Regions from separate parts of the Homo sapiens genome. Here all the other regions are linked to region 1. The links come from fine-mapping of genetic effects on gene expression. A gene starts in region 1. Each other region holds a variant in brackets. All regions are shown on one strand. Distances are between the middles of the regions. Region 1 holds the start of PLA2G4A (phospholipase A2 group IVA). Region 2 overlaps HMCN1 (hemicentin 1). Region 3 overlaps PLA2G4A (phospholipase A2 group IVA).

Evidence for each region. PIP is the estimated chance that this variant, and not a neighbour inherited with it, causes the effect.
Region 2: its variant is fine-mapped to the expression of PLA2G4A in putamen (GTEx, PIP 0.94).
Region 3: its variant is fine-mapped to the expression of PLA2G4A in whole blood (TOPMed, PIP above 0.99).

The regions. Positions count from the first base shown.
Region 1 is chr1:186,823,760-186,832,484 of GRCh38, reverse strand. It overlaps PLA2G4A (phospholipase A2 group IVA), which reads right to left and starts at 3,536. Exons shown (of 18, transcript NM_024420.3): 1 at 3,450-3,536.
Region 2 is chr1:186,001,667-186,010,391 of GRCh38, reverse strand. HMCN1 (hemicentin 1) reads right to left here. Exons shown (of 107, transcript NM_031935.3): 28 at 8,651-8,725; 29 at 6,548-6,674; 30 at 3,110-3,264. Among named protein-coding and RNA genes, the nearest start is that of HMCN1, 270 kb to the right of the region's middle. The variant C/T (reference allele first, on the strand shown) is at 4,527.
Region 3 is chr1:186,973,820-186,982,544 of GRCh38, reverse strand. PLA2G4A (phospholipase A2 group IVA) reads right to left here. Exons shown (of 18, transcript NM_024420.3): 16 at 4,757-4,952; 17 at 3,073-3,230. Among named protein-coding and RNA genes, the nearest start is that of LINC01036, 110 kb to the left of the region's middle. The variant G/A (reference allele first, on the strand shown) is at 3,650.

The sequences.
Region 1 (8,725 bases):
CCTCAAGAGCAAAATGTCAAAAATAATCACTAGCATTCCATGAGATTTCGCTAAATATTTTAAAGAATCCTCAAAATACCCAACTATTATTATTTCTATTTTACAATTGAGAAGACAACATTTTAAGGAGATAAAGTAATTGGATTATCATCTCACAACTTGTAAGTAATAAAATTTTTTTTAGAACCTAGAAAATAAACTTTAAGAATCTACCATAAGGAAATAAACAAAAATGTATACTAACATATATAAAAAAGGTCCTAGATGAAATATTATTTATAATAGTGGAAAACTATTATAAATCTAAATATCCAACAATTATTTATAATAGTGGAAAACTAATCTATCTAAATATCCAACAAGATATAATTGGCCAGTACAGCCTATATACAGATGAAAAATTTCATATAGTAAGAACCATACTCTTTTGCTCATGGATAGATTGCCATTACTTGCATTACACACAGTAGGGACTTAATAATATTTGTTAAATATGTGAATACAAAGTAATGCATGATTATTAAAAAAAACATGTTTTAACAATGCATCTCATGAATGAGGGAGAAGCATGTTACAAAACAGCATGAACAGTGTGATCACAATTTTGTAAAACTACATGTATGTATAGAAACATATCTAGACATATAAACATGTATATACATGAACTTCTTGTCTGTCTCTTTGCTGATGCATACTGGGTACTCAATAGATATTTGTTGATTGAATTAATGATTGAATTACATTTTAAAAGTACCTTGGGGGAAATAATAGGTAATATTTTCTTTTTCTTCCTTGCAATTTTCTATATTTAATGAAATTTTAAGCAGTGAGTGTGATTTATCTTTATAATAAACAATAGTGTTATAAAAACTAATCATTCTGGGAAATGTCATTAGGAATTTTGGAATAAAAGTAGTAAATATAGACACCCCACAATCCAATAAAAAATAACTTGCATCTGATTTTCTTATTATGTTTCACTTACTGCATTCGGCAATAAAAGCAACAGATGTTACAGAAAAATGTCAAGCGTAATATTGTACAGTTAATTATTATTGGGGTTGAGTCTAGAACCTAGGTCACCTGGTTTCAGGCAAGCAGTTTTTTCCATTATACCAAGTTGCTTGGAGTTCTAGAATACCAATGAATAAATGACTATGTGGGTGCTACAATATCCACTGTTAGTTCCTTACTTATAAGTAAAATGATTTTATAATTAATCATTTTATATTATCAGAAAACTCCAAAGTTTTAAGAAATACTGCATTTTCATGTAATATGAATTGTCTTTGGGGATTTGTGAACTTCTTAAAGGTGTTTTTAAATTTGTGTGTGTTGGAATGGCATAATGTGCATTATTCTAGGGAGGGGTCCATACCTGTCACAAGATTATAAAAGTGTCTTTGATGGAACAAAAACAAAAGAAAGAAAAAGAAAAGAAAGAAAAAGTAAGAAAGAAAGAAAAAGAAAGAAAGAAAGAAAGAAAGAAAGAAAGAAAGAAAGAAAGAAAGAAAGAAAGAAAGAAAGCAAGCAAGCAAGCAAGCAAGCTATACAATCTGGAGCAAGAAGGAGGAAAAAACTGATGGTAAATAAAAGCAAACAAGATGAATGGGAACCACAACTAATTCTGTCTTCCTCTTTTTTATTCCTGGAACATAATTTTAATATGTAGATGATTCGATTTTATGACTGCTTTCTAAGTACCAGCACTAGAAAAGATAATGGGTTAAAAACATAAGCCAAATAACCTCTATGGAATGAACATTTTCAGTTGCTAAAAATCTATTTAATAATTTTTCTTTTCCTAATTAAATGTAAATGCAAAAATGCAAAACACTTCAGAATAACTTACTTTTTTTTTTTTTTTTTTTTTTTTGAGACAGAGCTTCGCTGTTTTCGCTCAGGCAGGAGTGCAATGGCGCGATCTTGGCTCACTGCAACCTCCACCTCCTGGGTTCAAGCGATTCTCATGCCTCAGCCTCCCAAGTAGCTGGGATTACAGGCACCTGCCACCACGTCCGGCTAGTTTTTCTATTTTTAGTAGAGATGGGGTTTCACCACGTTGGCCAGGCTGGTCTCGAACTCCTGCCCTCAAGTGATCCACCCGCCTCGGCCTCCCAAAGTGCTGGTATTACGGGCATGAGCCACTGCGCCCAGCCAGAATAACTTACTTTTTAAAAATATGTTAAAAAGATGCAATGTCTTATCTCAAAAAATATGCTTCCCCTAAGGGAAGTTTGTAAAACTCCTTTGAGCAAATGCACATTAAACACTTCTCTATGCATTTCACAATTATTGCTTAATTTAAAATTTAACTCTTCCGGAGCTAATGAAAGAAGTAAATACCTGTTTCTTATCCCAACCTCTAACTTGATTGGCAAGGTGTAGGAACCTGTAGAATGTAACTTTAAAATTCTTAACAGAGCTTGTTTCACTACAGTCCTCTACAAATATCCCTTGAGCCACAATTCTAAATTTAAACAACAAAGAGAAACAAAAATACAAATCTTCTTTGAACTCAAATTATATTGGCAAATATAACTTTAGAATTGACACCCATTCAGACAGTACGCCTCTAATACTCTCCATCTGCCTTAGCTGAATAAATGCTGACATCATCAACCCATATGAGGAGTATTTCTTGTTCTGGTTTTGGAGGTGAATTTATTTTTAAGACTAAAATGATTATAAATTGTAGGAGACAGATACATTCATCCACTGATACTTTAAAATCAAATACCTTTTTTTTCTGTTTTTTTTGGAAACAAAATTACTGAAATATCCACACTCAAAATTTAACTATGTAATTTGATCAAATCTTTTCTAGTATCTAGTTTTGAGATTTTTTTTTTCTCTTGGCAAGCCAAGTAACTTAGGGGAAGGGTGGATCATCAGAACACCAGTCCGTTTACAGTTAATTTTTCAATAATCCTCTTTCTTTCGCATAATTCTGCAAAATATTGACTAGCCAGGAAAGCGTCCCATAAGTAACAAAAATGACCAATTTTTAGAAATTAAAAGTTAAGTGAGTCAACAAAGTCTCTCGCTAAAGATCGCTAGGGCTGTCAAACAGCACAGCATGCTGCTGCTCAAGTTTGGGGATCAGTAACCATTGGGTGTCATCACGTGGAACGCTAATAAGCGCCACCTCACCGCCGTTTTGAATGCTAACTTTCTGGGATTCCAACCCAAAGAAACACCTTAATCTTTGACTCCACAGTGCATTTAGATCCAGGAAGGCAAATCTGCGTGGGTTTGAAGAAAATTGAGGTCCCTAATCTGTGTTTCACTTCAAAAGGCAGAGGACATGCTGACTTTTTAAAGCAGCGAGGTTTCCCCTCCGTCCTTTCTTCCTTCCAAGTAAACTACCAAGTAAAAGCTAAGGAGGGTGGGAGAGAGAAGTGGAGCAGAGGAAGAATAAATATATTGCTTACAGTTCCCAGAGTTACCTGAGAATCTTCAGGCTCCTCAATGCCTCTAGCTTTCAGTCAGGATCCTTTTTCAGCTCCGGACTTAGAGAAAGTCTTATCCTGAGTAGGAGGGGCTAAAATGTGGGCTGGTCTCCTTGCGCTTTTGCAGATGTTTTAAGGTGGAATTAAAGGGGAAGAGGGAGAACGCTCTCTTCTCATAGAAGCTAATATTGTAAATGTAAATGCTTAGTTATTAGAACCAGGAGTTTGAAGTCAGAAAATATGCTTAAATAATATGTAAATTAATCAGTCCTAAATTCCATGAGTGCTGTTGTGGATTTCTGTGTGTGTGATGTGTGTGTGTGTGTGTGTGTGTGTGCGTGCGCGCGTCTGAAATTGCTACTTGTCCTTAAGTAGTAACTACTTCCTCCTTTTTTCCAAAGGAGAACAAAATTGAAAAGACAGTGAATAACCTAGAGCATTTTTGCATTATTTAAAAAGGCAAAGTTTATAACAAACCCCAAATATAAAAATGTACATTTTTAAAAAATGAGTATCAGACCACTTTAAAAATCAAATCTGTTTAAATATTTCCACTCCAGACTCAGAACACCTGTGTTGATAATAATTTCTTTGTAAATTTAAGATTAAAGGCATACCAAATAATGTAATATATATGTTGAGATTTAGGGAAGAAAATGAAATCAGGTTGAATTCCAAATTTGCAGTGTAAATCCAAATACCTTATAGCACTGTAATGAAGAAGGTGCATTGTTTAAATGTACCCAAATTCCATGAGAATCAATTCATGTCTTTAAAGATTGACATGTTCATTTAGTATATCTTGTTTTTCAAACACAGGATCTTGTTTTTGCCTTTAATTAAATACTGAACTCACTCTCCTAACTCTCTTACAATATTTTCAAAGAATATAATTTCACTAAATCTTCTGGAATATCTGCTTTCTGTAGCCCAACATTCAACTCTTATTTGTTTTTATTTTTTTCCCCTAAATTCAACCTGGCATATTATAAATCTCTCTTTGAAAAAAAAAAAAGCCAGTAATGTCTTTTTTAGGAAGGATAGATTTATAATAAACATTTTTCGGGCTGGGCACGGTGGCTCACGCCTGTAATCCCAGCACTTTGGGAGGCCAAGGCGGGCGGATCACGAGGTCAGGAGATCGAGACTATCCTGGCTAACACGGTGAAACCCCCGTCTCTACTAAAAATACAAAAAATTAGCCGGGTGTGGTGGCGGGCGCCTGTAGTCCCAGCTACTTGGGAGGCTGAGGCAGGAGAATGGCGTGAACCCGGGAGGCAGAGCTTGCAGTGAGCCAAGATTGCGCCATTGCACTCCCGCCTGGGCCACAGAGCGAGACTCCGTCTCAAAAAAAAAAAAAAAAAAAAAAAAAAAAAAAAAAAAAAAAAAAAAAAAAAATTTCTCTTTCCAAAGAAATCCCTGAATTTCTAGAAAGGAGGTGTATGTTAATTAGAGGAGCAGAGAGCACACTGGTAGTTTTCATCTCTTTCCCCCAGACACAACTGGTGAAAGAAAGAATCTATACTGCAGGGCATGTTCGTTCTAAGACTCTGATAAAAAAGACTCCCTGGAAAAGCAGCTTCACAGTGCTTGCTTATAGAGCACAAAAAAAGTGCTCTAGTGCTTTTTTGATAACAAAAAGTTATAGCTCTCAATATTTCCAGATGATATCCAATAGTGTGTCATGCATTAAAGATAAAAAATTTATTTAAACGCTTTTAAAGAAAATGTCATTATATGTCATGGTTAGGGTTAATATATACGGGGAGAAGTTTGTCTCTTTCCCGCCTTACTAAATGAAGCTGATTTATCTCCACCTTTATAATGAATAAAGGCTGCTGCAGGTATGTCTTTTCCTCTCTGGAATCAGTGCAGACCAAATCCCATTTACCCATTTTGTGGTTCTATGGCCTCCTTATCTCATCTATTTTGGCTCACTACTTGTGATCTCACTGTTCACATAGACCCCTAGGTGGATAGTACAAGTTCAGATTTGCCGTCTTCACTTTGCCCAATTTCCTCCAAAAATATTTTCAGCATTGACCTACTGACTTCAAAAACCTCTGCTTCCACCTTAGGTAAGATAGGCCCTGACTTCCATAGCGTGCTTCAGTCTATAGGATCAATTATGTCTGAAGACCCCTCTCCACTTGGTTTGTCCATCAACAAAGATTAGTCATCTGGGACCCATCTGAAACTGAGAAATATCATAGCAGCTTCTTTGAATCCAATTCTACCATTTGCACTATTTCCAGCTAATAAGTTTCATGCAGTTTGCTAGTAATTTTCCACATCTTTAAAATTTTAGAAAGAGAATAATAAGCTAAGAACTAGATAAGTAATCAAAAGGAACAACCCCAAAACTGGCCAAATTAACTAACAAAGAACACCTACTTGTCAAAAGCCATGGCTCAAAAACCCCAGGGGGTTGGGAGGGGGAACCCTGATGTTTGTATGATTGATTTTTCTTTCTTTCTTTTTTTTAATTTTACTTTAAGTTCTAGGGTACATGTGCACAACGTGCAGGTTTGTTACATAGGTATACATGTGCCATGCTGGTTTACTGCACCCATTAACTCGTCATTTACATTAGGTATTTCTCCTGATGCTATCCCTCCCCCTGCCCCTCATCCCACGACAGGCCCCCGTGTGTGATGTTCCCCGCCCTGTGTCCAAGTGTTCTCATTGTTCAATTACCACCTATGAGTGAGAACATGGGGTGTTTGGTTTTCTGTGCTTGTGATAGTTTGTTCAGAATGATGGTTTCCAGGTTCATCCATGTCCCTGCAAAGGACATGAACTCATCATTTTTATGGCTGCATAGTATTCCGTGGGGTATATGTGTCACATTTTCTTAATCCAGTCTATCATTGATGGACATTTGGGTTGGTTCCAAGTTTTTGCTATTGTGAATAGTGCCACAATAAACATACATGTGCATGTGCCTTTATAGTAGCACAATTTATAATCCTTTGGGTATATACCCAGTAATGGGATGGCTGAATCAAATGGTATTTCTAGTTCTAGGTCCTTGAGGAATTGCCACACTGTCTTCCACAATGGTTGAACTAGTTTACATTCCCACCAACACTGTAAAAATGTTCCTATTTCTCCACATCCTCTCCAGCATCTGTTGTTTCCTGACTTTTTAATGATCGCCATTCTAACTGGTGTGAGATGGTATCTCATTGTGGTTTTGATTTGCATTTCTCTGATGACCAGTGATGATGAGCATTTTTTCATGTGTCTGTTGGCTGCATAAATGTCTTCTTTTGAATGATTTTTCTTTCTTTATGTGGAGTTGTTTTCTGTTATCTTTTTTACTATTTCCAATTCACCTATCTTCTGCTCTAACTATATGAAACTGCTTTGTTTCTGATAAACTTGAGCAGGGTAATGAGGTAGTATATGAGAATTAAATCTGGATAGAAAATGAAGATGATTAGCCAGCATAGGGTACTAAGAGAGAGTTGAATAGGGAATCTAATCCAGATTGCAGGTAAAATCAGAAAATGGCTACCAATCAACTAATTTACTTATAATAATGTATCCTTCTATTCCACAGGCTATGCTTGAGTCTTCTGGTCCAACTGTATTTATAGTAAAATAATAAGTTGATATTTTTGCTACTTATTTGTATCTGTGAATATAATTAACATGAATCATTTCTCTTTTTAGGTATTAACAAAATCAATCAGGTTAGTAAAATAGCAAGTCACAGAAAATGATTTTCTCACCTTGTCAAGTTTTCTGGCATCCCACTAATTGACCTCTACCTTTCATTCAAACTAAGAGACTATTCTCCTTGCACATCGTTTCCCTAAATTCCACTAGAATAATCCTACTCAACCTGCAAGGCTTAGCTCAAGTACTATCTTGTCTGGAAAATTTCCCTACCCTTTTCCCTGTCCAGCAGAATTCATTATTCTACTTGTATGAGAATGCTCATTAGAGCACTGATCATGTATTATACTTGGCTATACAAGAAAAAAAATATTTTATATTCCATCAGGGCACAAGGCAAGTCTTTCTCATGTTAATAAACCCTCTTTTCACCTGAAGTTTATAACACATTGGGAGCTCAATGGATGTTTGTTGAATTTGTTTTCCATGATATCAGGGTCAAAGATATCTTAAACCTGACACCTAAATAGCACTCTACCTGCCACTGCCATCTCCATCATTACTAAAGAATAGACATTTTATTTTTTTAATACCCTCCAATCCACACACACACTGATAAATTACTGACAATATAAAACTAACAAGAAGTAAGGATGAAATGGACCCTAATTAAAATGTATTTACCATGAATTTAAAAATCAGATGTTATGATGAAACTACATTTTTCAGGAGAGTGTATCTGTGAACAATAAGACCTATATTTTATAGCTAAATATCTACTAGTAGTTACACCTACATTTGCAAAGATCTTTTGACCTAAACAACGGAAGCAATACTTTTCTCTTACTTTGAATTGAACTCATTAAACAAATTATTACTGCTTAATTAAACTTTTCCCTCCTTTTTAAATAAATACATTAGGAAAACTATAACAAATAAAGTACTACTAAGATTGACTGTTACTCTTTATATAGAGCCTATAATGGGCCAGGTACTTGTGTTAGTACTACATTTGTTGTATCACTAACCATTATATTCATGAAATGAGACATTATTTTCTTTATTTAGAATCTCGATATTCAGTAAGCATATAAAATTTGTAGTGAGGCTGGGATTTTAATCAAGTCGGTCCAACTCCAAAGCCCACAATTTTTCTAGTGTATCACACTCTCTCATAGCAAGTTTTGTTTGGCCATATTTTCAGCTTTGTCCCAAGTCAACCAAATCTCTGACTGTTAGGGAGCAGTGGTAGTGGAGTTACTAATAGATAATTAAAGCCTCCATTATCCTAAGCACCCAGGCTAGGAACCTTCTACTATTCTCTTCCACATCAGCAATTGTCAGAGTCTTGCCCCTTTTCTTCCTTCAACCCACCCAACTCCTTTATTTATCTTCTGGTTTCTATCTTCACATTTTTATATCTGCATTTTCCTGTCCATTTTACTATCAAAATATTAACTTGTACTCTTGCTTTACTATTACTTACATATACTACCATACAATCTTTACTCCTGCATCTCCTTTTCAGTCTTAAAATCATCCTAGCCTTCACTAACAGATAGACATTCCTACAATTCAGGTCATTTCACTACCCTACCCATACCATCCACTTCTCTATACTACCTATTGATTTATATTACTACACTTTA
Region 2 (8,725 bases), 820 kb after region 1:
CTTAAATTTGACAAATACATAAATATTTCACTTCCTCTTCCATTTTAATTCATACATATTTGCCAGAGAACTATACTTCCATTTGGGGGAAGGGAATACAAATAAAAATTATGAATACACTGCTCATTAAACTGTACATATATATGCATGTATAGATACACCCATGTACCCCCACACACACACATATATACACACAGACACAGACACACACACAGACACGCACACCCCTCAAGACTTTTATGCAATTTAGGGCAGGAGTTCCCAACCCCTGGGCCATGGAAGGGTTCGGATCCATGGCCTGTTAGGAACTGGGCCCTACAGCAGGAGGTGACGGACGAGCAAGCATTACCACCTGAGCTCTGTCTCCTGTCATCTCAACGAGGGCATCAGATTCTCATAGGAGCGCGAACTCTATTTTGCTGGCTTCTCGTGAGAATCCAACTAATGCCTGATGATGTTCAGTGGAACAGTTTCGTTCCACAAAACCGACCCTGGTGCCAAAATGGTTGGGGACTGCTGACTTAGGGAAGCTCTCAAACCTCCAAAACTCATCTGTGGACCACAGTTTACAAATCTTTGCCTCAGAACTACTAGTAAATCTGCACAATCTCCTGATAGGATATTAAAACTTCATTTACTTTTTTCCCTGTTTGACATTCTTCTTTTTCTTTTTTATCCTCCATCTCTTTTATTTTTCTCTTGTATTTTGTCTCAGTTTCTTTCCTTATTCAGGCACAATGTTCATTTATACCTTTTAAGTGTATCAACCCACCTGCTTCATTCTCATAGCAGTAAGTAAGGAAAAGGAATGAATCAAGTGTAGTATGAAACACACTCTCAATCTGAAATCTACATATGTATTCTTCACAGTTAGCCAAAGCATGATACCTGTTTTACTTTTTTTTTTCATTTTAAGAACAAAAGCATTTTCACAAGTGAAATAAATTTAAGCCTAAGAGATGCAGGCGAGCATTGCTAAAGAGGAAATGACACTATTTCCTGAATTATAATATTCAAAACTTTGCTACATGACAATGCCTTTTATCTCAGACAATCTCAGAAGGTTTAATCATTATAGAGCCCTCTTTTCTGGGTGCCTGGGGGCATCATACAGAGTGAACAAGAGGATCTAAAATGAAAGAACCCAAGTCCCATGGAAATAAGAGTCTTATTGAATCACCAAAATGTATTCATCACAGATCCTGGCAAAAATACAATAGTGCAGAGAAGACTACTCAACAGCTTGGGAAAAATATTGCACCTATTGTTTAAAAGTCTGGCTCTGGTGGGAAGCCAATGGTACCAATAGCACTTCTGTTTAACTTGGATGCTTGTATAGTTAATCTTTCAGCAATGTTATTCTTTTTTAGAGAACATGTCTTTTCATGACTAATTTCTTCCAAAGGCTTTTATTTATAGATATAAATGATTTAAAAGCCTGTATTAAATATAATTTCTTTGATTCAAGAAAGCTATTTGAACTTTACATAAAGACAGTAACATTTAAAAAGGGAGATTTGGAAAGCAATTAAATTACATAGAAATCAAGCTAGATTCTATATGTACATTAAGTTTTAAGATGATACAATCACTAATTAGATAATGATAAATGAATAACATTTATTGGGCTCTTACTATAAGCTCAATAATCCACGTAAAGTATCTAGCATTTGATCTTCACAATAACACTACTGCATAGGTGCTATTATTATCCCCATTTTAAGGCTGAGAAAACTGAAGCCCAGAGGGTTTAGGAAATTTATCCACAGTTACAAAGCTAGTCAGTGGCAGTGGTTGGGCCTCAACACAAACTCTTATTAATTACTCAACCAGTGTTGTTCAATAGAAATCAAATGCAAACTCACATATGTAATTTTAAGTTTTCTGGTAGCCACATTAAAAAATATGGAAAGAAACAGAGGAAATTAATTCTAATAATACATTTTACTTTGCCCAATATATCCAAAATAACATTTTGGATATAATCAATGTAAAGTTATTATTAGATATATTACATTTTTCATATTAAGCTTTTGATATCTGGTGTGTAGTTTATATAACAGTGCATCTTAGTTTGGACTAGCTACATTTCAAGTGCTCAATAGCCTCACGTGGCTAGTGACTACCATATTAGACAGTGTAACACTAGACCATTCATTCATTTAGCAAATATTTCTTGAGACTTGCTATGTATCAAACATTAAAGTAGGGAACATGCAAAACAAAAGCCTACTCTTATCAAGTTTAAATTCCTGGGAAAGAAATAGATCATAAGTAAATAAACCTATAATTAAGCAATCAAATATCAGATAGTGATGTGTGCTGTGAAAACAAGAGAGTAAGTAGGTGACTGCTTTTAATGGGAAGATCCTATGAGAAGGTGACATTCTAAGAGGTGTCTAAATTTTCCTTGAGCATCATACACCATGGAAAGACAGAAGATAGTGCAGTGAGCACTACAGGTCTATTGAGTTCCATTCCTTTCTATTGTATAAATCTTTGTGCTGGAAACATAATATTCATGTGCCTACCTATGGCTCCACTGGTAAAAATTAAAATGAATTTGGCAATCACGCTCCTCAGAAGAGGCTGATAATGTTACGGAAAATAAGAGCTACATATATTTGGTGGGGACATAGCTGGGAGAAAACAGTAGCACAAACACATAAGGCATTTAAAAGATAATCACATGGTCAGGATAACGGCCACGATGGAATTCAAATAGAATAATTGAATTGTCTGCATATCATCAACTTCATTCTATTTCATAAATCTCTATAATTTTTAAAGTTTGTTTTGTTCCTTTCAAAGATACAGACATTTGGTTTGTGTATATACTAACCAATTAGGAAATTCTTGCTCTCTCTAAGTGAGATTATATAAAAATCACTAGATCTTTTGAAGACAACCATATTTAATGAAAAAAGGCATTAAAATTTGATCCAATATTCTAGCCTTTTAAAACACATGAAGATAAGCTCCTTCTTCTCTTGAAGTATGTAGTATTCCAAATTATTCAGTATGAAATAAGAGTGTAGTTACCAGTAAACCCTGCTTGTCAACTTATAATGAGAGCAGACAATAAAAAGCATAAGACAATCGCACTTACTATAGATAGTCAGTTTTATATCCTTGGCTTGTTTGCCAGCTGCATTAGACACAGTACATTGGTAGCGCCCCTTGTCATTTCTCCGTGCATTCTTTAAATGTAAGACTTGTCCTCTGTCTAGAAGTTCAACATTAGGATCGCCCAAAAATAAAGGCCTAGAAAAAATAAAACTTTATTCCATGGGTCTATTTTCAGTTTTTCACATTTCTTATTTATCACAACAAAAATCATTAGTACAGGCTAAAAATACAAGTAAAAGTTAATTTAAAAAATAAAATGATATGATTAGCACTCCAAGAATAAAAGTTTTAAACCACTTTGCTAACAGAAGTTAGGTAATCATAAATATCTCTTTGAGATGAAAAGTTCCTCCATTTCAAACTTAAATTATATAATAATATTAATAGAAATCCAGTAGTGTCATTATTTGTTTTATTCATTCATCCATTCTTATTCTTTTTTCAGCTTTTTTTAAATTTTTTGGTTTGCATAGCTAAAATTCTACCATTATCTGGAAAAGAAAAATTAAGAGTTTTAAATATTACAGTATAGATTTTGGACCAAATAATATTATTTTTAAATAATATCATTATAATATCTAGAAGAGTATTCACAATATCATGAATGGTTATTTTTACTAAAGGCAATAATCATACCAACTTCTCTAAAAATAAGTATTGTAATAAATACAAATGCTTACATAATCATAAATATTGAAAGATATTTATGTCAAAAGAAGCTCGTATATGATTGTCAAGGAAGTCTTTTTCTACTATACAGAGTCATTTACTGACTACTATAAAACGCTCAGTTTATGTAATTGGCAGCAGTTTTATTTTAAAATTTGGTTGTTAAAGTCTATGATATCCTAAGACTCATACCTTTAAAGTCCATAAATATTTTTTCAGGAATATCCATAGCTAGTTTTTTAAAAGTTGCAATGACTTAGCCACATAATGAATAATTAGATGCACTGCCATATTCATAATACACTAGTAAGACTATGAAATTAAACAGAAAACATTTCACTTCCTATGGTAGCATATTTTACTATTTCTTAGTATGACACTTTGTATATAGCTCTCAAAAGTTAAGAGAATAAAGTAGCTTCATTTAGTGTGTTTTAAGGTTTTTTTTTTTTTTTTTGAAATGAAGTCTCACTCTTGTTGCCCAGGCTGGAGTGCAATGGTGCTATTTCAGCTCACTGCAACCTCTGCCTCCTGGGTTCAAGCGATTCTCCTGCCTCGGCCTCCCAAGTAGCTGGAATTACAGGCACCTGCCACCACGCATGGCTAATTTTTATATTTTTAGTAGAGACGGAGTTTCACCATGTTGGCCAAGCTGGTCTTGAACTCTTGACCTCAGGTGATCCGCTTGCCTTGGCCTCCCAAAGTGCTGGGATTACAGGCGTGAGCCA[C/T]GGTGCCTGGCCACATTTTAAGTTTTTAAAGAAATAATTGATAATATGCTGCTCGAATTTAAGTAACTTTGAAACTTTTATTGATTGTCAATTGTGCAAGTAACATAAAATTTTAAACAAAAAAGTAAGCATTATGATGAGAAAAAGTATCCTTGGTCTGTGGCCCCTAATGTGAGTCTGCTTTCCAGACTTCTCTTTATCAGTCTGATTTGTATTCTTCCATGTTTTTTACATTTATGAACATTTTTGTTTTTAACAAAATTAAACACATTTTTGTTTTTATTTTACATTTATAAACAATTTAAACAATTAAAAAATTGTTTATAAACATTTATAAACAATTTAAACAATTAAAAACTTGTTTATAAACATTTATAAACAATTTAAACAATTAAAAACTTGTTTATAAACATTTATAAACAATTTAAACAATTAAAAACTTGTTTATAAACATTTATAAACAATTAAAAACTTGTTTATAAACATTTATAAACAATTAAAAAATTGTTTATAAACATTTATAAACAATTAAAAAATTGTTTATAAACATTTATAAACAATTTAAACAATTAAAAATTTGTTTATAAACATTTATAAACAATTAAAAATTTGTTTATAAACGTTTATAAACAATTAAAAAATTGTTTATAAACATTTATAAACAATTAAAAAATTGTTTATAAACATTTATAAACAATTAAAAAATTGTTTATAAACATTTATAAACAATTAAAAAATTGTTTATAAACATTTATAAACAATTTAAACAATTAAAAAATTATTTATAAACATTTATAAACAAAAATGTTTATAAATATACTCCCAAAGATATCTAAAGTTTTAATATATCAATGGTGTCAGGTTATTGTTCTGCTTTTCTTTCACTCTATAACAGGTATGGAGATATTTTTGGTACACATAACTTGATCTTATTCTTTTTAATTGGTGAGCAGTGTTCCATAATATGATTATGCCGTAAAGTATCTACCTATTCTCCCAATGTTGGGTTTTAGCCAGCTTTCCCATCTTTGCCATCACAGTGTTGCAGTAAATATCAATGTACAAGCCTCTCTGTGGATATGCATGACTACTTCCATCTCCTGGATACTGCATCACAGTGTATGTGCATCAAATTTTAACAGATATCAACAAGTTGCCTTTTAAGGTACTAATTTACATCCTCCCCATCAGAGCACTGTATCTTGCTTTCCCATACTCTAGTCAACATTTGATAATTTCAAACCTTTGCTTTTTTGCCTATATGAGCTGTAAATAACAAAATTTTATTATTCATCAAATTATTGATGGTATCTTTTAATATGTTTATTGCCTTAGTATATTTTAACTGCCTGTTCATATCCTCCATATATTTTCTATTTTGCTGTTTGTATTTATTAGTGATTTATAAAAAGCTTGAATACAATCTTTTATTTTATATACCACAAATCTTGACTATTTTCTACTTAGGCCTTAGATATCTGTTCCCAGAAACTATAATACACAAACTGTAACCACCATTTGAGAAATAAATTCTCACAACCAATACAGACCACTGCAGCCATTTCGATGTAGGCACACCTCAGCAGTCCTTGAGATCTGGAGTTGGAGAAATATCTGTAGTTCCTTTTTGCCCATACACAGAACTAGCTTAGTATTCATTTTGCTGTCATAAACACATTTTCCTTTTTAATAAGACAGTTCAATGTAAACAGAAAATCATCTCATGTTTAGATCTTACATTTTTCACTGTCTTTAGACAGAGGATATTTAGTGTATATTAAATTTGAGTTCCTCTATATTTCTAAAATGAATTCCCAACATTCATAGGGAGCTTTGAATTCAAAAGAATGAAAAAATTACAAGACTTTCAGACTAGCTTTTGAGCAATATTGTTTTTCCTGTATGCTCATTTAATAATATTCTATGTAATAAAATAATTAAGAGGGAGAAAATCCACATGCATTTTTCACATCTTTTTCCTATCATTGAAACCTTGCAACAAATACAGAAAAGATACTCACTTGCCATCTTTGAACCAATGAATATCAGGAAAGGGAGTGCCTTTGACCTGGCATTCAAGGGCGACGTCACGGTTGAGGACAACTGAGACTTCATTTGGGAAGTTGGTACCTATTATGGTGGGTGGAACTTGAACAAAGACAGTGTATTATGAAACTCTGTTACTCAGCAAAAAGAGCAGGCATGGGGTTAGAAAGCAGTCAATGATTTCTATAGTATTTCAACAAGATCTTAATGTCAAAAATAAAATACCACACAACAATACTTTTTCATATCATTTCTGTGTACCCAAATGTTAAATTTAAATGTAGAAACATATTTATAAAATATTTGCTAGCAAGACAATTACCTTCAAGAATTATGACAGTATAGGGTTCATTTTTGGGTGTATTAAACTCATATGCAAAAGTAGTTTAGAATGTAAGTGATCAGTGATGCAAATGTAATTTGCTACTGCTATACATTTTGGATAATGAATGACAATTAACATCACTCTTATAACATTCAAATTCTACATATAGTGTGGTGCTACTTGAAATATATTACCTTTGTCTTTTAAACAACTAAGATGGTAAATTTGGTATGCAATATAACATGAAAAATAATGTGCTAGTTTTTATTCTCAGGATTATCAAGCTTATTAAAGAGCTTCTGGATACTTCCCTGTCTAGTCGTCCCCTTTCACACCATGTTAAAGTGCTTGGTCTTCATCCTCAGAAAAATGACCAGCCACTAAAGGATTTCAGTAGGGGAGGAGTGGGATGTAATCATATTTGTGTTTTAAGACCACACACTCCTAAGTGAAGAATGGATTACAGTAGCAAAAAGTGGATTCAGGTGAGCCCTTAGGCTATTACATTGATTCAGCTCATGAATGATGATAGACTTTCACAGAAGGATGAAAAGAAGTAGATCACCAAAGAATTAGGAAGTAGACATAACAGGAAATATGTAGATTTGAAATGTTGGGGAGAAGGTAGTAGTGAGAACCTGGAGGTTCTGGAATAACCAAGTGAGTGGATGGAGGTACCAGTCCCTAGACTGGGGATCAAGGAAGGCAACCAGAACTGGCTTTCACTGGGACCTTTTTGTTTGATATAAAACTAAGGTATTCAAGTCACAATACTATGGAGAAAATTAGCTATATATCCCTAGGCTCAGGGAAGAAGTCTGAACTGGAGATAAAAAATTGGGAGTCATCAGCACACAGATGGAATTCAGTCAAGGGAGCGGACAAGTACCAGGAGAAATAATGTCAGCAAGACTCATGATAACAATGATTTCGTAATTTGTTTTTATAACTCATACTTAAATATAATAATGGTGATTTTGTGGAAGAAAAATTTCAGGCTTTGAGAAGCCTAATGGGAGGAATTATTTGTATGTTATAGCAGTTTATGAATATAATTTTTATGCAGTATCATTCCTCCACTCACTTCTACTCAAGACTTACAAATTATGTGCCCATTGTAAGGAGCAAAATATTGAAAAGGGAGAATGTCATTTTATCACAAAGTGAATTTTAAATGGCAAATATAATTTCACAAACTAGAATTATAAAATTTTAAATTTATGATTACCATTAAAATGTCTTACATCCTAATTTATTACAGCTGCTACCTACTTAATTAGAATCAGGACTGACTTAGTTACAAGAGTTAATTAGAATGCAGGGGAAAGTGGATTTACTACCTTTTCCAGTTCAAGTACAGCCTAGCAGCTTCAGGATATGCACAGCATGAATGTAATATATTCTGTATCACCCTGTTATAGCCACTTCCCAAAGAATGTCGTGCCTACTTAACTGGAGAAATTGACAAGAGTAATAATTTCTTATTTTACACAAGATAGCAGTACCACTTTTGAGTATTTGATACTACTGTATATATGATTCAAAGGCATCTCTGTATTATAAATAATGAAACCCTTTAAAATTTCTATATCATATGGTTCTGGTTAACAAATAATAAGGACAAAAATAATAGAATGAAACTATAGTTTTTCTGTCAATTTATCTTTTTCTCTTTACTTTTTCATATAGTCAGCTCTATTTTAGGTAAGAAATGCTTCTGAATTGTAGTTTTTTAAAAGGATGTATTTCTTACCTAGCACATCAATGTTAAAGTACTTCTGAGAAGTGCCTGCAATATTAATTGCTTTGCAGGAATATCTTCCTGCAT
Region 3 (8,725 bases), 150 kb before region 1:
TTGTTAACCTGAGGCATTTGCAAAGGTCTTTGGGTGTAATCCCCATGGACCTTCAGGGGTACAAGATAAGGACATGTATAGGTAAGGTTCTCATTTATTGAGCAGCTTCTGTAATCATGCATCACCCAATTAAACATTCACTACTACAATTATTATAGATCCTACCACACCTGTTTCAGAGACGAGGAAGTGGAGGCTCAAAAAGTTTAAGCAGCTTATTCAAAGTCACATGTAAGAGATTTAAAGATGATATAACGCCCATGACCTTGTCTGTACATGCTGTGCCAGAAACTGTAGCAGAAGCAATTAAAAACTGCTTAATTCTCAGAACTAAAGGACTTGGAGATACAGGAAAGATTGCCCTTTATGGCTAATGCTTTTAGCGTCAAGTTTAAAGAATATTTCCCAGGGTCAAAGTCATAAAGATACTCCCCTGTGTTGTATTCTAGAAGCTTTGTTTACTTTTATACTCAGATCTACAGTCTATCTGATATTGGCTTTGTTGATAATGTGAAAGAGGTACATTTAATTTTTTCCTTTGTGAATAATCATCTGATCACTTTTTTTATTACAGATAGTCACAATTTATTCAAGGACGATTTTATTTAGTGCTACTGTCTGTCCTTGGACAATGTCATGTTTTCTTAATGTTATCTTGCTGTCTTTCTATTTGGTAAAGTAAGTCTTCTAACTTCGCTTTCTTTCTTCAAGATGAGTTAGCCTACTTTGGTCCTTTTCACTTTCATATTATTTTTTAATGAATTTATCAATCTTCTTATAAAAACCTGATGGTATTGTTACTAAAAATGCAGGGGAAATGGGGACTTACTAGTTAATGGTTACAGAGTTTTAGTTTGGGAGGATGTAAAATGTTCTGGAGATAGATGGTGGGGTTGGTTGCACGATAATGCAATGTACTTAATGCCACTAAACTGTACACTTAAAAATGGTTAAAATGATAAATTTTATATTTTGTATATTTTATAACAATAAAAAGTGAAAACATATTTTTAAAACTGCTAAATTAATGGTTTCTGAAGAATCAACATTTGATGAGGTGTATAGGTCGGGACAGTTGTTCTGGGATTCAGTCTATTTTTGTTCAGGCACTAACTTTTACATCTATGTGTCAAACAAACTACTTTGAAGAATGTTTGTAAAATATATAAATAAAACTGTATCATTCCTTATTGCAAATTGTTTAGCAGACTTTATATAAACTAGAACAGCAAGACAAATGTATTTGGTTAAGATACACATATGTATATCTACTCCCAAGTCCAACATGGTATTTGTATATTCCTACAATCTGTTTTTTCCATTTGAGAAAGACTTATCAAATTTAATACAATTCATCCCAAGGAATGTGTAGTTTTGAGTTTATTGGCTCATACTGGAAAACTAGGGTGACTGTGATATTAATTCTTACCTCTGTTTTAGTAGCATGAGGTTTTATAAAATGCAACTAACTCTATTTTGAGAATTTATGTTCACTCCCTACAAATCAGAGATTAATCATTTTTTCTCTTAACCTTTCAATTTTTGCCATCACCATAGAGATAATGTATCACGTGGATTTCAGATGTCCACTGCTTGAAATATTTTTTCTAAAAAGGAAACAAATCTATGGAGAAAATGACATATGCTATATATTTTGATAAGCATTTTTAGATGAATTATCATCTATTTGTAAATGAAGGCTGAAAAAAAGAATTTTAGAGTTGTAAGAATCAAGGCTTATTGGGGAAAATTTTACACATTTACAAAAATTAAAGATATTAATTAACAAATATATTATGGTGCAACTGTGATGATTGCATACAGTTGATATTACTAGTCTCAGGCCAAACGAAACAAGCAAGCAAACTAGATGTGTGGAGTTCTATTAGCTCACAAAATCTAATTAGAGCCCATATAAACAGAACACTCATTCACATATTCTGAATTCCTTTGCGCCATTTACACAGTCACCAAAAAGACTGGTAAATCAGACATGATGCCTTTCCTTCTCCATTTAATTTCTTTTTTTCTGTTTTTCTAATGTACAAAATCCAATTAGGCCACTGAACTTAAGCTTTTACAACTGATAATCATTTGTCAGACACTATGATTTGGAACCACAAGTCAATGATTTCAGTTACAGAATAGTGTTCCTATATGGTAAGTTAAAAATGAAAGAATTTCACCTAGACACAGAATCTTAGCAGAAGATACACTAATGATAGGAAGGATTGATACTGAAGACAATGATTTGTTTCTAAAGCAAAGCATACTTGACATCTCAAAGGCTAAAAATTGGAAAGGCTGGCCGGGTGCGGTGGCTCACGCCTGTAATCCCAGCACTTAGGAAGGCCGAGGCGGGCGGGTAACGAGGTCAGGAGATGGAGACTAACACGGTGAAACCCCGTCTTCACTACAAACACAAAAAAATTAGCCGGGCGTGGTGGCAGGCGCCTGTAGTCCCAGCTACTCGGGAGGCTGAGGCAGGAGAATGGCGTGAACCTGGGAGGCGGAGCTTGCAGTGAGCCGACATTGCGCCACTGCACTCCAGCCTGGGCGACAGAGCGAGACTCCATCTCAAAAAAAAAAAAAAAAAAAAAAGGAAATGCTGTTACGTTTTGTGATGCTGCTCTCAAATTCACAAAAAGAAAATATGTAAAATCATAAATGTATTTATTAAAATTCATGTTATATTTTTGCAGATTAACTACACTTCTGGTTCCATTCACTTTCATACTCATATTTCCTTTACTCATATTTCCTTTTCATCACTTTTCTTCCTTACTTATAATTTGTTATATCATATAATAAATACATAGATACTTCGGGAAAGAAACTGAGTATTAACCAATCATTCAATAAAATAATAGCATAAAATGAGTTTCCTTATTTGTCAGTTTTGTAGGGTTCTTCTGAAGATTAGCAAAATATTTCATGAAAAGTAAAGTGGCATATTTTGGGTGGTGTCATTCATAACACTTATTTTTTTATTTTTAATTGAAAAGAGGTATTGGTGTATTTATACGGTATGGAAGTCATTTGACATAGTCAATGGCCATAGGAGATACTTACATCAATGTTGTTCAGAGTATTGAAGTGCATAAGATCATGTAGTCTTTTGAATGCTTGATTTGGATATTGAAAATTGAAGGTTGAAAATGGTGATTCTGGGTCATCAAAAATATCAAAGTCAGCGATTTCTTTCTCTTCCTCAGTTTCCCTTGGAACACCTAAATACCAGAAGAGTCACAAAGGGTGTTATTTTGAAAACTACAAAATATCTCTAAAACCCAAGGAATAAAACATACAGACATAAAGACAGCAGTGGGAGTCCCCACAGAGCCAGGTACTCTGTAGCATCTCTGACTTTTATCGTGTCTGTGTGTTCTGGCCAGATGACATCCAACTGCCAATATCTGACATCTGTGTGCCGGAGGGCTTTCTATCCTGCCCTGCAACTGTAGAAGCCTGCTTGACCCACTCACAGCAGGCTGGAAATTCTGTTAAATAACACTGTTCCCCAGGCAGTGGTCAACCAAAGACTCTAGGGAGTTAGAATCTAAATACTCCATTCCCCTGCCTTTTGGTGTGCGTGTGGGAAGCATGATTGTGGGACACAGGTCTATTCCATTTTGTAGTCTTTCCCAGC[G/A]GATCAAGTTCCCATTGTGGTAGCCGGCTTGCTAATGCAACTTTGTTGTCTGCCTTCCTTCCCTTTACCACTTCCCCATTTCCTTACTAATAAACTAGAGTGTTCCCCAGCTCATCTAAATAAACTATTTGCACTTGAGTCCTTTTCTCAGAATTAGTTTCTGGGAGAACCCAAACTAAAACATTATGTGGCTGTCTTTATGCCATGGAAATCCCCTACACATGCCAACTGCTCAGTGAGCCTCTCCTTGAGAATTCACAGTGATAGAAAATTCACTGGGTTTCATGTGCTCTAGTGTCTGATAACTAAAAATGTCAGATTTCCACCTTCTCCTATGCTGAACTATATGCTTCACAATAATCTTCACTCCTATCAATTCTTTCTTTGTCTTCCTGAGAAATCTAGAAAAACACCATTTTTCTCAGCATATTCCCATTACTCATCCTCCCTATTTTTTGTGTCTTTCCATTTATAAAATGGAAAACACATTTTCTGGTCCTAAAATATGGTTTTTGGAGCCTTAAGCACCCTGCATGTAAATCTTTAGATCTCCTTTGGTTAATCAACATTTTCCAGGATACACAAGAGTCGAGAGACCCCTCTGGATATGGTTAAAAAAATAAAACAAAACAAAAAAGACTATGCCTCAAACTTGATTCTTGTTTTCTGTGAAATACAACATGGCAAACTGAAACTGCTAGCCATTGTGTACTGCTAGATTACGTTAATCTTGTAGTCACGTAAAATTCCCAGAAATTTGCATGATTTTTCTGAAATAAGGGCTTTCTTACAAGGGTGATAGTCAAAATATTTGATTAAAAATCAATCAGAACAAACATAATTCAAAGTATTGAAGTAAAGTCCCAGAGATTTTTGCTAAACTGGTTGTTGACTTTGCAGTTTCTGAACTGTGAGCAAGTCAGGGGATCTTGGGGTAAGAAAGAGGAGAAGTACTTGAGGTCTCAGAATAGTATCTATTTATCAAGGTAAGGGAAGCATTCAATAGTGTAATAGCTGGTACAGCAGTGACAGAGTGAAACAGTTTAATGTCAGTTTCGTCCCCTACTTAATTTCTATTTTATGGAATACAGCTTACTCCCTACTTACCTGGAGCCCTGTACTTTCTGAAGTTGATGTTGGCCAGAACAAAGTGGATGATGGTTGGGCAATCTTTCTCCATATCAGGATTCTTGGGTTTAAAGACATAGCACTCCTTCAGCCCTTCCCGATCAAACACATAAGGATCAATCTTTGGAAAGGGGAGCTTGTTCATTTTAGCCCACTTTTCTGCAAGTAGAAGTTCCTATGGGAAAGATGGAAAGATGAATTTGGAAATTTTCAGTTTTCATTGATTCAGTTGGTCTGACCATAATTCAGTGTTCACTAGGTGTCTACTGTGTGCCAGCAATGTACTCCTTGCTAGGATGAATCACGACCCTGTTCTCAGGAAGTTCATTAATTTCAAAGAAATTGAAAACAAACTCACTATTGTTATGTTAATTCTTGGCACAAGGCTAGCTCCACAGCAGGCATTTGAAAAATTATTGATAAACTGAACTGAGCAAAATTATGTTGAAGAAGCTGCTAGAGAAAAAAAATTATGGGTTCAGAGAATTTATAACCATGTGAAAGTTTTTTTAACCCTTAGGAGTAAAAAAGGAATCTGATGATGCAGAGAAGAATCCTGTTACTGGATTTTTACCTGTATCATCTCCACCAAAGTGTTAAAAAGTACCAGCCAAAACTTCATTCATTTTATGTATACAAAAATATTTGAGTTACTCTGAATCAGCTTTTTGTCTTCTTTTTGTGAACAGAAGTTGAACCTTTGGCCTCAGAGCATTGCTATTACATGTAACGGCCAAGAGAGGACTGTACAGATGTACCAAGGGCTTAGTTAATGGTCGTGGCAAATTGTATGATGGTTTCCATGTATTAGCTCCCTTCCTGGTAAGCTGGTTATACATTCCCGCCAGAATGAGAAGAGAAATAGAACAGAGCCTCCACGGGTGATTTATGACTGCTGGCATGTAAGTGGCCAAGAAATACGTGTTCGCAGTCAGCTACGGAGATTCGAGGTTGGTTTGTCTCTGCACCAAAGCAGGCTAACTCACTGGGGTAAGCACCCCCAAAATTAAATTTAAACTGGAGAACATAAATCAATATGGAGAGATGCAGTGAAGAGACCTCATTTCCATTATGTGCATCTTCAGGGAGAGCAGAATAAATAAGAAGCAGAATATCATAGTGGGAGAAGCACAGATTCTGGGACCAGATGCCTGAGTCCAAATGCAAGCTCCATGGCCTTGGACATGTTTCTTAAGTCAATGTTTCCATCTCAGATTTAAAATGTGGATGATATAAATAATACCTATCTCATAGGGTTGCTATTAGAATTAAATAAATTAATACTTTACAGTGCTTAAAACAGTGCTTACTACATATTAAGTGCTATGCAAATGTTTAATAAATAAATGCCAGTAAAGAGAAGAAAAGAGATGGAAGGAAAAAAGTAAGGAAAACAAAAGAGGATAAAGAAAGGGAAGAGAGATAAGAACATTAGAGAGGAAAATTCCTGGAAAGGGGAAGTTTTGGGGATACTGTCACTAGAATCTTAAGTTCTTTTTAACTACTCTTGTCATCTCGTTGATCCATTCCACAGCAATCAATAGTGGTCGACTAGGTTCCATGTTAGAAGTGGGGACATAACAGTGAGTAAAACATTCATGGTTTTTGTTGTTATGGGATTTATAGCCTGTTGGGCGAGAGATAGCAATCAAATAACCCTTTGTGCTTAAAACTGTGATAAATGCCAGGAAAAAATACAAGGTGAGACTTTGCAGTACACCTGGACAATTTCCTCAGAGTATTTGTTAATTCAGCCAACAATTATCAGTGAGTTATGTTCTAAGCATAAGAGATAGGCTGTCCTTGAAGATTTGGAGTTTATAAATCAACAGAAAAGATAAATAGATATTATAGAAAAGTATGATAAAGGCAGGAAGGTGCTGCACGATTGTGGGCCTGGGTTGTGCAGCGTGAAAGGCCCAGCTCTAAGACAGACACCCTAAAACTTGCTAGCTGGATGACCTGAGACAAACTAATTAGACACCACAGCTCAACAAGAAACAAATTATTTTTGGTGGCTGCAGTGTACAGTGATACTCCCCTACAGGCAACGCAGAGATAATGAGGAACGAACAAACACAGACTAGATTATTCACTATCCCTGACATAGCAGGCTCCCAATCCCATCTCATCTCTATTTCATCTGTTTCTTATTTCTCAGCAATTCATTTTTCTACCTCTGTAAAATAAAGCTAATACCATCGCCTTTCTCATAGGATTGCTGAGAGGATTAAATGATAAAATGTATAAAGACCTCAGTAGTTTACATTAGAAGAAAACAAGTACTTTATCATACAGGCTTACATTCAGAGAAAAATACACTTTTCATTGAACTTTCACTGCTCTTTTTGCTTCTGGAATGTCATGAATTTTATGTTGATCAACTCTCTCAACACCACTTATGAATAAAAATCTAGGAGAACAAAGGATTTAATGTATATGAAAGCATTTGCTTCATAAACTATTATGATAAATACAATTACATTTCACTGAAAATCCCATATGTATGTAAATAATTTCTTGTTTGAAACTTGAGAAAGCTTTTATCACCAATCTCTTCTTTTTTTCCCTCTATTCAGCTAAATTAATCAGCTTGTTATTTCTTGTCCAGCACTGTTCACAATTATTCACTCGTGATTATTCAACATCAAAATAAACCAAAAGTTCACATTGTGGAGCAATTGCGTGAGGGCAAAGAAAAGAAAGAGCTTTCTAGTGTTTACAAACATGACTCAAGGGTATGACCAGTGATGTGTGGATTTTGGGGTAAAATGAAAAGGGAAATACATGAGGTAACAGTGAGGCTATTTTTAGATGGTTCACTTCACGCTAGAATCAGGAAGAGATGGAAACTTTCCCTTTCCTTATGTGATCCTGATGTGGAAAAGATTAAAAACAGATGATTGCAAATACAGTGATTATAGCATGGATAAACCATTTCCTCTCTGATGTCTGGTTTCTCTCTGTAAAAGCTGAGAAACAATGACACAGACTATGAGTAAAGTGCAATAGTTTTTAGAAAGTATTTTAAAAGATTTCAGTGAACAAAAAAATTGCTGCTCCACAAATTACAGCGATATGCCGGAATTGTGTTCTATGATAGCTATCCATTTTGGTTATTGTTTGACACCTCAGATACTTCACACTTCCATAGACTAACTTAAGATAAACTTACATAGTATTAACTAAACTGACTTTCTGTGGGATAAAAATTTGACAGTATCCTTCAAAGAGATACTTCGTAAGATGTCTGTGCTCATTTTGGTGTTTTGTTTGACAGAGTCTCACTCTGCTGCCCAGGCTGGAGTGCTGTGGCCTGATCTTGGCTCATTGCAACCTCTGCCTCCCAGGTTCAATCGATTCTCCTGCCTCAGCCTCCTGAGTAGCTGTGACTACAGGTGTGTGCCACCACACCTGGCTAATTTTTGTATTTTTAGTAGAGAAGGGGTTTCACCATATTGGCCAGGCTGGATGCCCTCATTTTTGAGTACTGAAACACCACTAAGAAGACTTGAAGGAGAGGAATGACAAATAAATACCATAGAAATGAATATTGTAAATAAATGTTATTTGTAAATAACAGAAATATATTCAAAACACAGTATGATAGCATATATATGCCATTTCATTCATTTACATGTAAAAAAATATAAATATATATTTTAAATATATGAAACAACACATTTATTTATTAAAATACGAACACACATACATATATACATAAAATAATAAATTGACTTGTCATTAGAGGAAGTCAGATTTCTTTTGTCTCTATGCAAACCAAGAATATGTGCTTTCTATTCTACAATGTTTCTCATTACATAAAACCTATTTTTAAGATTAGGGAGAAGATTAGGGAGAAGGATGGCATATAAGCATGTAGGTAAACCTCCAGAATCTTAAAAAATTATTGAAGCAAGTAATATAAAATACAACAGATAGAAACTA